4 linked regions of the Homo sapiens genome follow. The protein of the gene in region 2 interacts with the protein of the main gene of each other region in a biochemical or structural test. Each region holds a gene or a part of one and is shown on either strand. Other genes may lie near its edges.

Region 1 (3,108 bases), on a different chromosome or scaffold from region 2:
CAATTCATATTATCTGTGGTTTTTCAGTGTATTATAATGACTTAATAGACTGTTTAATTGGAATTATCAATTTATATATTTTTCCATTTTTTACCTTAGTAGTCCAAGGAGAATCTTATGTTTTTATATTCTGTTTACTGCCAGAATTAGTTTCCATCATTCCTTTCTGTGTTTTATATTGTGGAGAAGGAAGCCGGGATCTCCGTTGTTCCTTTGTGTGTTTTATATTGTGAAGAAGGAAGCCGGGATCTCCGTCATTCCTTTCTGTATTTTATGTTGTGAAGAAGGAAGCCGGGATCTCCGTCGTTCCTTTCTGTATTTTATATTGTGAAGAAGGAAGCCGGGATCTCCGTCATTCCTTTCTGTATTTTATGTTGTGAAGAAGGAAGCCGGGATCTCCGTCGTTCCTTTCTGTATTTTATGTTGTGAAGAAGGAAGCCGGGATCTCCGTCTTTCCTTTCTGTATTTTATATTGTGAAGAAGGAAGCCGGGGATCCGAAAAGGCTCCATTGTGCTATTGCAATGTCAGTAAGAGCTCAGGCTGGAACACATGGCCTTTCTGGACACAGTCCCGTTAGGGATTGGAGGCCTTAAAACATGCTTGTGTGTCTGGAATCAGGATTCCCAATCCAGGGAATTGGCCCAGGAAACAGCCTAAGCTAGGAACAAAGTATGATGCAAGAAGACATTTGCCACAGCATTTAATTTTTAACAGCACGAAACAGGAGGTGACCCGCAGTTCGTAATGACGGATTGGGCCATTTAATAAAATGGTGGCATTGCCGGTAATGGGTAGAACACAGCCAGCAGAAGTGGTGTGTGCAGAGCCTGCAGTGACGCGGAAAACTCCTCGTCCTGTTAAGTTCAGTAAACCACAGCCTTAGATTCTATGTGGGTTACTATGTCAGCCAGGGGGAAATACTAACAGAGAAAACGCTTTGCAGGAAGCTTGTAGAGCAGAACTGTTCCTACGGGCTCCATTTCTGTGATTTCCTCCCAGGCCGACCTGACGGTGGCTTCCGTGCACTCAGATTTTGGCAGGTCCACCCACAAGGATTAAGGAATTCTAGTTTTGCCATTCATTTCCTAATTTATGTTTTTATTATGATATATGGGATTGTACATGTTGAGGACCCCAAATCCAAAAACAAAATGCGAAATGCTCCAATTTTTTTTTTTTCTTTTTGAGACGTAGTCTCACTCTGGCACCCAGGACGGAGTCCAGTGGCACAGTCTCGGCTCACTGCACCCTCTGCCTGCCAGGTTCAAGCTATTCTCCTGCCTCAGCCTCCCTAGTAGCTGGGATTACAGGCACCAGCCACCATGCCTGGCTAATTTTTGTATTTTTAGTAGAGGTGGGGTTTCATCATGTTGGCCAGGCTGGTCTCGAACTCCTGAACTCAAGTGATTCGCCTGCCTTGGCCTCAGATGCTCCAAATTCTGTGTCGACGTGATGCTGAAAGGCAGTGCTCATTGGAGGAATTCAGATTTTGGATTTCAGATTTGGGATGCTCAACCGGCAAGTGCAATGCAAATATTCCAACATTAAAAAAAAAAATCCAAAACACTTGTGGTCCCAAGAATTTCAGATAAGTGACACTCAGCCTGTAAATACATAGAATTGTGCATAACGCACAGTTTCACAGTTTAAATGGTAACGAGAAGAGGCCACCTGCCTGTGCCCAGGTCAGAAGGGGCTGTGACTCACACACTGAGCCTCAGCTGCCCCTTCTCAGCCTCAGCCCTCTCTGCTCACAACCCTAGGAAATGATGATGCTGAGTTTTACGTCAATTATTCCTTTGGTCCTCCTCTGTAGTTGTACCAATTTGTATCTTAAAGGGTACTTTTCACCTTTCCGGCTTTTGCATTTTCCTAGCTGTCCCATGGTGCAAGCAGCCTCTGTTGCTTTTTCTCTCAGCCTTGCTGGGGTCAGTCCCTGCTGGTGCCACAGCTATAGTGCTTTCCTCTCCCTGCCTGCAGCCTGCCTCTGAAAGGAGGTGCCCTCATTGCCTCTGGATGGATAGCCAGGTGCTCCCTGAAAGGAGGTGCACTCTCACTGTTCCTCTGGAGGATAGCCAGGTGCTCCCTGAAAGGAGGTGCACTCTCACTGTTTTTCTGGATGGGTAGCTAGGTGCTCCCTGAAAGGAGGTGCACTCTCACTGTTCCTCTGGAGGATAGCCAGGTGCTCCCTGAAAGGAGGTGCACTCTCACTGTTCCTCTGGAGGATAGCCAGGTGCTCCCTGAAAGGAGGTGCACTCTCACTGTTTCTCTGGATGGGTAGCCAGGTGCTTCCTGAAAGGAGGTGCACTCTCACTGTTCCTCTGGAGGATAGCCAGGTGCATCCTGGAAGGAGGCACACTCTCACAGTTTCTCTGGATGGGTAGCTAGGTGCTCCCTAAAAGGAGGTGCACTCACTGTGTTTCTCTGGATGGGTAGCTAGGTGCTCCCTGAAAGGAGGTGTACTCTCACTGTTTCTCTGGATGGGTAGCTAGGTGCTCCCTGAAAGGAGGTGCACTCTCACTGTTTCTCTGGATGGGTAGCTAGGAGCATCCTGAAAGGAAGTGCACTCTCACTGTTTCTCTGGATGGGTAGCTAGGAGCATCCTGAAAGGAGGTGCACTCTCACTGTTTCTCTGGATGGGTAGCTAGGTGCATCCTGAAAGGAGGTGCACTCTCACTGTTTCTCTGGATGGGTAGCGAGGTGCTTCCTGAAAGGAGGTGCACTCTCACTGTTTCTCTGGATGGGTAGCTAGGTGCTTCCTGAAAGGACGTGCACTCACTGTGTTTCTTTGGATGGTAGCTAGGTGCTACCCATTTGCATTACACATCAAGCCTCTGTATATTTGTGTGGCTGGCTCTGCTGACATGGGCAGAAGCTCCTTCTGGGGGCTTGCCCAGGGGCAGCATCGCTGGTGTGCAGGGATCACAGGTGTGTGCTTCGCCAGGTGATGAGCGGGCCTGTCCCTGCACAGTCCCCCCAGCTCCTGCTCCCTGCAGACTTCACTTTGCCACTCTCCTCTTTGGGAAATGGACTCTCACCACGGTGGAAGATTCAGTGATGTCATTTGCCTTGGCCAGAGTAGGATGATGGTGAGGGCTGGGGCCTGT
Region 2 (3,500 bases):
TTGCCTCCCAACAAGCCTGTAAGCTAAGTGCCTTTATTATCCCCTATTATAGAAAAGGAAACTGAGGCTTAGGAGGGTTAAATAACTAGCACAAGTTCAAAAGCCAGTGAATGGTGGCCGGGCGCAGTGGCTCACATCTGTAATCCCAGCACTTCAGGAGGCTGAGGCGGGTAGATCACTTGAGGTCAGGAGTTTGAGACCAGCCTGGCCAACATGGCAAAACCCCGTCTCTACCAAAAAATACAAAAATTAGACAGGCATGGTGGCGCGCAACTATAGACCCAGCTACTCGGGAGGCTGAGGCACAAGAATCGCTTGAACCCAGGGGGTGGAGGTTGCAGTAAGCCAAGATGGCACCACTGCACTCCAGCCTGGGCAACACAGCGAGACTCTGTCTCAAAAAAAAAAAAAAAAAAAAAGCTGGTGAATGGCAAAACTGGAGTATTAGCTATTGCTACAAAGGAAGCCACCTAAAGTGGGGCTTAAAATAGCACCCACTTATTATTATTATTTTTTTTGTGGCAAGGTCTCACTCTGTCACCAAGGCTGGAGGGCAGTGGTGCTCTTGGCTCACTGCAATCTCTGCCTCCTGGGTTCAAGCGATTCTCTTGCCTCAGCCTCTCGAATAGCTGGGATTACAGGCGTGTGCCACCACGCATGGCTAAGTTTTATATTTTTGGTAGAGATGGGGTTTCACTATGTTGGCCAGGCTGGTCTCGAACTCCTGACCCCAAGTGATCCACCCACCTTGGCCTCCCAAAGTGCTGGGATTACAGGCGTGAGCCACTGTACCAGGCCAACTTACTATTGCTTATGAGTCAATGGGTCAGCTGGGTGGCTGTGCTGCCCTGGGCCAGGTTTGGCTGATCCCTACAGGCTCTTGTGCCTGTGGTCAGCTGGCAGGCTGGCTGCTGGCTGACTGGTCTAGCTAGTATGGACTTGGTTAGAGGGGGTTTGCTATCTATCTTCCACATGGTCACTCATTTCTGGACAGCTAGCTTGGGCTTGTCCACATGGTGGCCTTAGGGTTCCAAGAACATGAGCAGAAGTGTTCAAGGACACCTCCTGGCATGGCATCACTGCTGCCTTACTCTGTTGGCCAAAGCAAGTCACAAGGCCAGCCTCGATTCAAGGGATGGGGAAATAGACGCCACTTCTTTTTTTCCATTTTTTTTTTTTGGTGGAGGCAGGGTCTTGCTATGTTGCCCAGGCTGGTCTTGAACTCCTGGGCTCAAGCAGTCCTCCTGCCTCAGCCTCCCAAAGTGCAGGATTATAGGCGCGAGCCACTGCACCTGGCCTAGACTCCACTTCTTAGTGGGAGAAGCTGTAAAGCCACATTGAAGGAGGATGGATACATGGAAGGATAAAATTTAATAATTAAACTAGCAGCCCAGGTATTTTCTTAAAGCCCAACATCAGCTCCCTTGATATACCTTCTTCGTGATGTCATGATGCCACTAAGAAGCATTCTGGGACCTCAGTGGCATGGGTCATGGGAGAAGGACCAGGGACCAGGGCTGGAGAAACTGACCAAGTCCTTGGGCTGATCCCCGAGGTGTGGGTAATCTGACATCAATGCCCAGCATCCAAAGGGGAATGGCCAACTCAGGTTAGACCTGGACACATACACATCTGAGCAGGTTCATCTGGGGACGAGCCTGGCACAGGAATCTGACAAGGGTGATATTTTAACCCACGATAGTGGCCAAGTCTCTAGGTAGATTATTGGTGGGAAGTGGAATTGTAGTTTTCACTGGGGAGATAGGGACAGGGTACAGCTTTCCCTTCCCAGGGATCACACTGGACAAACTAGACAGTGTCAAGGGTTCAACAACAGTTTGGGATTCAGGTCAGGGATCTAGCCCTACTGCAGTCCTAGTTATTGAAACTAAGGAGAAACAAGGGTTAGAGTAGCAGCTTAGCAGTCAGCTTGGTTGCAGGTCTTCTCCTTATAGGATGCACTAGATCTCAATTCTGAGGCTGACATGACATAAACAGGACACACATGCTTCTGTTCCCACACTTTGGTGTCCATAGCAGACATCACTAATGGATCACAGAACAGTTTTTCCGGTGAGTCCAGACAAGGTCTCAGAATCCTTCTCAACACAGTGTTTCACCAGGTACTATACAACTGAAGAACATTAGCATATGAGTTGAAATCTGCATACTCTAATCCCTGGTTGCAGGCAGTATGACATTCTGTGCCCCACTGACTGATGGGACTGAGTCTTCTTCATGCTCCCCTCCCTGGCTGGTTTAGGGACAGGTTGTTGCTGCCAAACTGTGTTGAGAAGGAATCTGAAGCTCCACCTGGGCTTAGTAGGAAAGGAGAACCATGATGAGTTTGAGATGTCTAGAGCAGGAGAGGCCCCTTAGAGAACACGGCTTTGGGGACAGTCAGGACTGATGCCTGGTTTCAGCCCCCACTTTTCCTCTCTGGGTTGGGGTGGAGTGGGAAACTGTCAGAGAGAGAGTCTACCCCTGCGAATAGGGGCATTCCAGAGCCCCCAAGACCTCTAAGAATGGTAGGCCGCATTAGGATTTCCCAACACTATTGACATTTGAGACCAGATCATTCTTCGTGGCGGGGACCATCCTGTGCATTGTAGGGTGTCAGGCAGCACCCCTGGCCTCCACCCACCTGATGCCAGTAGCACCCCCACCCCCAGTTGTAACAACCAAATATGTCTCTAGACATTGTCAAATGTCCCCTGGTGGGAAAAACTGAGACCCTCCCTGGACTAGATCCTGAAAACCTTTTCCCTCCCGGTAGCAGGGAACCACCAGGTTGTGTAAGGAGGGGTGAACTGTCCCAGGTTGGAAACAGAGCAGGTCAAAACTCCTACGCTTATCAGTAGTGGGATTGAGCCTGTGAGTAGCCACTGCACTCCAGCCTGGGCAACATAGCAAGACCCCATCTCAGAAAGAAAGAGAGAGAGAGAGAGATAACCTCTTCCTTATCAGCAAGAGTTTATGGAAAGGCTTCAAAGGTTTTGGGATCAGGAGGACCTGGGTCTGGTGTGGCTTGGCTGATGTGTAGGGTGACATGGGTCAGCGTGTGGGCCAGCGTGCTCCGCTCACTAGGCCTCAGCTTTCTCCTCCAGCAAATGAGAATGACACCCTCCACCTCTCTGTGGGTGTGCTCACACTCAGTGAGTGCCACCCCTATCCTCCCACAGCCCTGGTCTCCCTCCTGAACCCGTGTGCCAACATGAAGGTGTGCAATGAGGACCAGACCAACTGCACAGTGCCCACTTACCCCTCGTGCCGTGACAGCGAGACCTTCAGCACCTTCCTCCTGGACCTGTTTAAGCTGACCATCGGCATGGGCGACCTGGAGATGCTGAGCAGCACCAAGTACCCCGTGGTCTTCATCATCCTGCTGGTGACCTACATCATCCTCACCTTTGTGCTGCTCCTCAACATGCTCATTGCCCTCATGGGCGAGACAGTGGGCCAGGTCTCCAAGGAGAGCAAGCACATCTGGAAGCTGCAGG
Region 3 (3,287 bases), on a different chromosome or scaffold from region 2:
TCAACTTAATATGGTGGTATTTAGCCAGGTCAGATTGTCCTAACAAGATACCATAGACTGGGTGGCTTAAATAACAGAAATTTATTGCTTACGTTCCTAGAGGCTGGGACGTCCGAGATCATGGTTTGGTTCCTGGTGAGGGTTCCCTTCCTGGCTTGCAGACAGCTGCTGTTTTGCTGTATCTTCACATGATGGAGAGAGTCTCCTGTCTCTTTGTATAAGAACACAAATGCCATCATAAGGGGACCAACCTTGTGACCCTATCTAGCCTTAATTACCTTCCAAAGGCCCCATCTCCAAATACCATCACATTGGAGGTTAGGGCTTCAACATGTGAATTTGGGGTGGGGGGGCGGGTGTGGATACAAACATTCAGTCCATAACAGGTAGGACTGAATAACTCAGGGAAACTGATAAACTTTTTCTTGAAGAAGGATGTAAGGAATGAATTTTAGAACTTAGGAACTAAAGGGATTATGTGCTTTTTCAAAAAGTCCAAGTTTACAGAATATTTGATAAACTTTATTGAAACGATTTATCCCAGTATATATTGGTAAGTTCTAAATGCTTCCAGTACATAGTCTTCAAAAGAAACTTCACTGTGCTGTTATGAATTTGGATAATATTTTGTATTATTTAAATACCAGTGTTAAAATTCATTGCTTTTATACTTATAAAAATGGAAAAATAGGGCAATTACAATGTTGGATATTTTAGCATTAGAAAAAAACGTAAATACCTGATTTCATGTGACAATGAATGACATTCAAATGATTGTTAGAAAGGTAATTTTCAAGCTTTTAAATGTAACTAAAACCAAATATAATAATTCATCCAAAAAACTGAAAAAAAGACATTTGAAATTACAAAAATTTTTATGTTATACGTGTATATACATTTGAAAAAACAATTCTTAAATGGATTGATCTGAAAATTTGAAACCACTGAATCAAAAGCTTATCTTTCTGAGTAGAGGTGAAATTTAAACTTCTAAAAACTGCTATATACACCCACCAAGAAGCACCAATAATTCATTCTTAAACCTTACTTTCTGAATGTATAGACTATAATATTTGAAACATTTTAGGCCAATTAATTGCTTTGCATCAATTAAAACATACTGAGTGTAGAAAAGGGAGTAAAACCTCATATATATAGATTCTAAGAGGTGTCTGTCTTACGAATGTAATAATTTGGGCTGGGCGCGGTGGCAAACACCTGTAATCCCAGCACTTTGGGAGGCCGAGGCGGGTGGATTACGAGGTCAGGAGTTCGAGACCAGCCTGGCCAAGATGGTGAAACTCCGTCTCTACTGAAAATACAAAAATTAGTCAGGCGTGGTGGCGGGCACCTGTAGTCCCAGCTACCCAGGAGGCTGAGGCAGGAAAATCATCTGAACCCAGGAGGCGGAGGTTGCAGTGAGCTGAGATCGCACCATTGCGCTCCAGCCTGGGCGACAAGAGTGAACCTCCATCTTAAAAAAAAAAAAGAACTTAATAATTTGTTACAGCTATGTTAGCAAAACACTGCTGGTGGTATTTCTTAATACATATATTTTTTTGAGATGGAGTCTCACTCTGTCACCCAGGCTGGAGTGCAATGGCACAATCTCGGCTCACTGCAACTTCTGCCTCCCAGGTTCAAGTGATTCTCCTGCCTTAGGCTCCCAAGTAGCTAGAATTACAGGTGCGCATCACCACGCCCAACTAATTTTTTGTATTTTTAGTAGAGATGGGGTTTCACCATGTTGGCCAGACTGGTCTCGTACTCCTGACCTCAAGTGATCCGCCCACCTCAGCCTCCACAGTGCTGGGATTACAAGTGTGAGCCACTGCACCCGGCCATTACAATCTATTTTTATCTAGCCTCTAGAGCAGGTGTCCTAAGTAAAAGACAAAAACAACAACAAAAAAACCCATTTTTTTGTTTTGTTTTGTTTTTTGAGACAGTCTCACTCTTGTTACCCAGGCTGGAATGCAGTGGCATGATCAAAGCTCACTGCTGCTTCAACCTCCCAGGCTCAAGCAATTCTCCCACTTTAGACTCCTAAGTAGCTGGTACTATAGGTGTCTGGCTAATTTTTAAATTTTTTGTAAAGATGGGGTCTTGCTATGTTGTCCATGGTAGTCTCAAACTCCTGGTCTCAAGTAATCCTCCCTGCTTGGTCTCCCAAAGTACTATGAGTATAGCTCTTTTTTTTTTTTTTTTTTTGAGATAAGAGTTTCACTCTCATTGCCCAGGCTAGAGTACAGCAGCATGATCTCATCTTACTGCAACCTCCACCTCCTAGGCTCAAGCGGTTCTGCTGCCTCAGTCTTCCGAGTAGATGGGACTACAGGCATGCGCCACCGCACCCAGCTAATTTTTGTACTTTTTGTAGATATGGGGTTTCACCATGTTACGCAGGTTGGTCTCAAACTCCTGAGCTCAAGTGATCCGTCGGCCTCGGCTTTCCAAAGTGCTAGGATTACAGGCATAAGCCACAGTACTTGGCCAAAATTCTTTATGTGTTAATGAAGGCTTTCCAAAATACTTAGTTATGGCTTAAAATAGTTTACTTAGCCATGTCTTTTTTCTAGGTTGACCTTTCTGAATGATCAGACTGCAAGATAGAGTTTAAAATTAATAAAATATGTTTTATTATCAAATTTCTAATTCATTCATTTTTTATAGGGAAGAACTTATAGAACTGAATTATAGTGGAGAAAAATCAATACAGGTTGAGTATCCCTTATCCAACATGCTGGGACCATTAAGTGTTTCAGATTTCAAATTATTTTGGATTTTGGAATACTGGGCATTACACCAGTTCAGCATCCCTAATCTGAAAATCTGAAATTCTAAATGCTCCAATAAGCATTTCCTTTGAACACTATGTTAGTACTCAAAAAGTTTTCAATTAGGGATGTTCAATCTGTAGATCTAAGAATGACCAAATTAAAATATAAGAATAAGGCTGAGTGTGGTGGCTCAAGCCTGTAATCCCAGCACTTTGGGAGGCCGAGGCGAGTGGATCACCTGAGGTCACTTTGAGAACAGCCCGGCCAACATGGTGAAACCCCGTCTCTATTAAAAATACAAAAAGTTATCCGGGCGTGGTGGCGGACGCCTGTAATCCCAGCTACTTGGGAGGCTGAGGCAGGAGAATCACTTGAATCTGGGAGGTGGAAGCTGCAGTGAGCTGAGATCGCACCACTGCACTCCAGCCTGGATGACAGAGTGAGACTTGGTCTCAAAAAAGAATATAAAAATCTTTGCCTCTGAATACTATTTTCTCAATTTAAAAA
Region 4 (3,500 bases), about 100 Mb from region 2:
TCCTCTGTCTGCTTCCTCTCCTCTCTTCCTCTCATCTTCTCTCTTGCTTCCTCCACAGAAGAAGCTGGTTAGTTTGATCTCACGCAAGCTTATTAATGTCCCAGTCCCAGTTTCTAAGCTGCCTAGGCCTCCTGGCCCTCAGTTTGGGCCCGCTGGGCTCTTGAGCACGGATTTTTTTCTGCCCTTTCCCTTTTCCTTGCTCTTCCCCCTTTTTCTCTCTATCTCTTGTTCTCTTGACTGCATTTCTTTCTCTCCCTTCTCCCCCGGCTTTCCAGATCTGGATGTGATTCAGGTTCTCTTTTGTACACATTGCACACTCATCCTCCTTGCGTCCTAAAGCTTTTTTTTTTTTAGTTGAGTCATTTAATCAAAAAGACTTTTTTTAGAAAAAAATTTCCTCTTGAGCCATCATGCACATCTGACTGCAGCCCCAGCGAGCCCTTCCTTCCTTGTCTGACTGCTCTTCTTCTCGATTTCTTCTTGTTCTGCCTTCTCGGTTTGCAGCCCTGACCCCCGCTGTGTGTCTGGCCCTTGGTGACTGTCCGTGTTTCTGTTCCTGTCATTGTAACTGTGACTTTTCTCTCTGTCTGCCCCCCCTTCCTACTGGTTCATGCTTCTCCCCCATTCCCACCCTCTCTGCCCGGCCTCCCGCTCCCGCCCTTTCTCCTCATGCACCCGGCCTCGTCTCTGTAGTCTCTGCACTTGTCTCCCATTAAGGTCCCATCCATGGGGGGGCGGAAGCGGGAGCGCAAGGCTGCCGTCGAGGAGGACACCTCCCTGTCGGAGAGTGAGGGGCCCCGCCAGCCCGATGGGGATGAGGAGGAGAGCACAGCCCTCAGCATCAACGAGGAGATGCAGCGCATGCTCAACCAGCTGTGAGTCCGCAGGCCGTGCTCCCGCAGCACCGACGCCACAGCAGCCCAGGAGGCCGGAGCTCCCCAGTCCCCCGCCAGGACGAGGCCCCGCCCGCCCTGACACCCGGGTTCCCTGTCTCTAGGAGGGAGTATGATTTTGAGGACGACTGTGACAGCCTGACTTGGGAGGAGACTGAGGAGACCCTGCTGCTTTGGGAGGATTTCTCAGGCTATGCCATGGCAGCTGCAGAGGCCCAGGGAGAGGTAACCTCTGCTCCCGGCCTCAGGGCCCTCTGGCTCTGCCTCTCCAGCCTGAAGCCCACTCCCCCGCTCCTCTCCTTGCTCTGTCCCCCCATGTGGCTGTCATCCTCTACCTGCGTCTCCCCTCTTCCTTTATCCTTTTGCTTTTCTTTCTCCAGTTTCTTTAACCAGACTTCCTCTCTCTCTCTCTCCCTGACTTGGCCCTTTGGAATGCGTCCCATCCCATCCCTCCTTGGCTGGCCTCCCCCGCTTCCCTTTCTACTCCAGCAGCAGGAAGATAGCCTGGAGAAGGTGATTAAAGATACGGAGTCCCTGTTCAAAACCCGGGAGAAGGAGTATCAGGAGACCATTGACCAGATAGAGGTAAGGGCAGGAGCGGAAGCCAGGGGCGTGGTGTCCCAGAGGGTTTTGAGTGGGGCTGCAGGCGCAGTGGCCTCATCCCTGCTGCAGGACCCTAGAGACCAAGGTCTTGGGAGGAGGAGTGATCTCTCAGCTATAGTCCTCCTGGTGGGCTCTGAAGACCTCAGGCTCTGGAAACAGACAGATATCGGTTCAAATCTCAGCTCTGTTACTTACAACCACCCTGAACTTGTAATAAGTTACTTGTTCCCTCTGAGCCCCTCCTTTCCTTTCCTTTCCTTTCCTTTCTTTCCTTCCTTCCTTCCTTCCTTTCTCTCTCTCTCTCTCTTCCCCTCCCCCTCTATCCCTCCCTCCCTCTCTCCCTTGTCTTTCTGTCCTTTCTTTTTTGAGACAAGGTCTCACTCTGTTTCACTCTGTTGCCTAGGCTGGAGTGATCCTCCCACCCCAGCCTTCTGAGTAGCTGGGCCCACAGGTGTGTGCCACCATACCCAGCTAATTTTTATTTGTATTTTTTTGTAGAGATGGTGTCTCCCTGTGTTTCCCAGGCAGGTCTTAAACTCTTGGGCTTAAGTGATCCTCCTGCCTCGGCCTCCCAAAGTACTAGAATTAGAGACATGAGCCATGTGTCCAGCCCTACACCTGTTTCTTTTTCTTTCTTTCTTTCTTTCTTTCTTTTTTTGAGACAGGGTCTTGCTCTGTCACTCCAGGCCCACTGCAGCCGTGATCTTCTGGATCCAAGCAATCCTCCTACCTCAGCCTCCCAAGTAGCTGGGACCACAGGCGTGTGCTACCACGCCCGGCTAATTTTTTGATTTTTTTTACAGAGAACAGGGTGTCACTATGTTTTCCAGGCTGCCCTCAAACTTCTGGATTCAAGCAGTCCTCCTAACTCGGCCCCACAAAGTGTTGGGATTACAGGCATGAGCCACTGTGCCGGGCCTTTTTATTTGTAAAATGAGGAATTTAATAATACCTCACCTATAGGGTTGTTTAGAAGATCAGATGAAATAATGCATATATAGAGCTTAGGGCAGTGTCTGGCTCATAGCGAGTGTAGCATAGTGGGGACTGTTTTATTATTATTAACACTATCAGTGCCATGGCACTCAGAGATGGACTGGGACTTTCCTGTTTCTTCCACTCAGCCTTTGAGATAACAGAGAAATCTCCATGCTTTTTCCCAAGCCTTGAAGTACCTTCTAGAGGTACCTAGAGGCAAGTGGAGCTGGTGCTTTAGCTCAAACTCTAGGCTTTAGGAGCTGCAAGAAGGATTTGTGGAGGCCGGGCGCGGTGGCTCACGCCTGTAATCCCAGCACTTTGGGAGGCCGAGGCGGGAAGATCACGAGGTCAGGAGATCGAGACCATCCTGGCTAACACGGTGAAACCCCGTCTCTACGAAAAATACAAAAAAAAAAAATTAGCTGGCCGTGGTGGCAGGCACCTGTAGTCCCAGCTACTCGGGAGGCTGAGGCAGGAGAATGGCGTGAACCCGGGAGGCGGAGCTTGCAGTGAGCCGAGATCGCACCACTGCACTCCAGCCTGGGCGACAGAGCAAGACTCCGTCTCAAAAATACAAACAAAGGAAGAAGGATTTGTGGAACCACAGAATGGAGGTTGCTGTTGCTGTGGGAGGAGGGATGGACGGGACCCCCGTGAGCTCTCCTGGCCTGGTGAGGTGGTCCTTTCCCGACGCTCTGACTTTGGGAGAGGCATGGAGCCTTCTCTGCGTCTCAGCCTCTCTTCAGGCCCACATGGGAGATTCATACGTAGTCCCCCCTTATCTTCAGGGCATGTGTTCCAAGACCCACAGTGGATGCCTGAAACCAAAGATAGCACTGACCTCCTGATAGCTTGGGTCCAGTTGCTGTCAACTGGAACGTGTTTCTGTTCATGTCTCCCACCCACACATTCAATGCCTTTTCTATCTTAACTAAGCACTTAGCGTGCGCTGTGGCGGTACCTTTTGCAGTTCGAGGTGTGACAGCAAAACTGGCACAAATTTCTTTTTCCTTCTTTACAATTTCA

What was found.
Region 1: the proteins of TRPV4 (region 2) and ARHGEF10 interact in a test that uses a peptide from one of them, tested with the Homo sapiens proteins (one large-scale study listed by BioGRID).
Region 3: the proteins of TRPV4 (region 2) and TMOD3 interact in a test that uses a peptide from one of them, tested with the Homo sapiens proteins (one large-scale study listed by BioGRID).
Region 4: the proteins of TRPV4 (region 2) and IFFO1 interact in a test that uses a peptide from one of them, tested with the Homo sapiens proteins (one large-scale study listed by BioGRID).

What each region holds. Positions count from the first base shown.
Region 1 is NC_000008.11:1,952,926-1,956,033, forward strand, and holds part of ARHGEF10 (rho guanine nucleotide exchange factor 10), read left to right. Parts: intron 1-3,108. UniProt on the Homo sapiens protein: May play a role in developmental myelination of peripheral nerves.
Region 2 is NC_000012.12:109,788,399-109,791,898, reverse strand, and holds part of TRPV4 (transient receptor potential cation channel subfamily V member 4), read left to right. Parts: intron 1-3,156; coding exon of another isoform or gene 3,157-3,182; coding exon 3,183-3,499; intron 3,500-3,500. UniProt on the Homo sapiens protein: Non-selective calcium permeant cation channel involved in osmotic sensitivity and mechanosensitivity. Activation by exposure to hypotonicity within the physiological range exhibits an outward rectification.
Region 3 is NC_000015.10:51,912,939-51,916,225, reverse strand, and holds the end of TMOD3 (tropomodulin-3), read right to left. Parts: 3' UTR 501-3,287; downstream 1-500. UniProt on the Homo sapiens protein: Blocks the elongation and depolymerization of the actin filaments at the pointed end. The Tmod/TM complex contributes to the formation of the short actin protofilament, which in turn defines the geometry of the membrane skeleton.
Region 4 is NC_000012.12:6,546,043-6,549,542, reverse strand, and holds part of IFFO1 (non-homologous end joining factor IFFO1), read left to right. Parts: intron 1-58; coding exon 59-67; intron 68-693; coding exon 694-875; intron 876-997; coding exon 998-1,118; coding exon of another isoform or gene 1,119-1,382; coding exon 1,383-1,478; intron 1,479-3,500. UniProt on the Homo sapiens protein: Nuclear matrix protein involved in the immobilization of broken DNA ends and the suppression of chromosome translocation during DNA double-strand breaks (DSBs).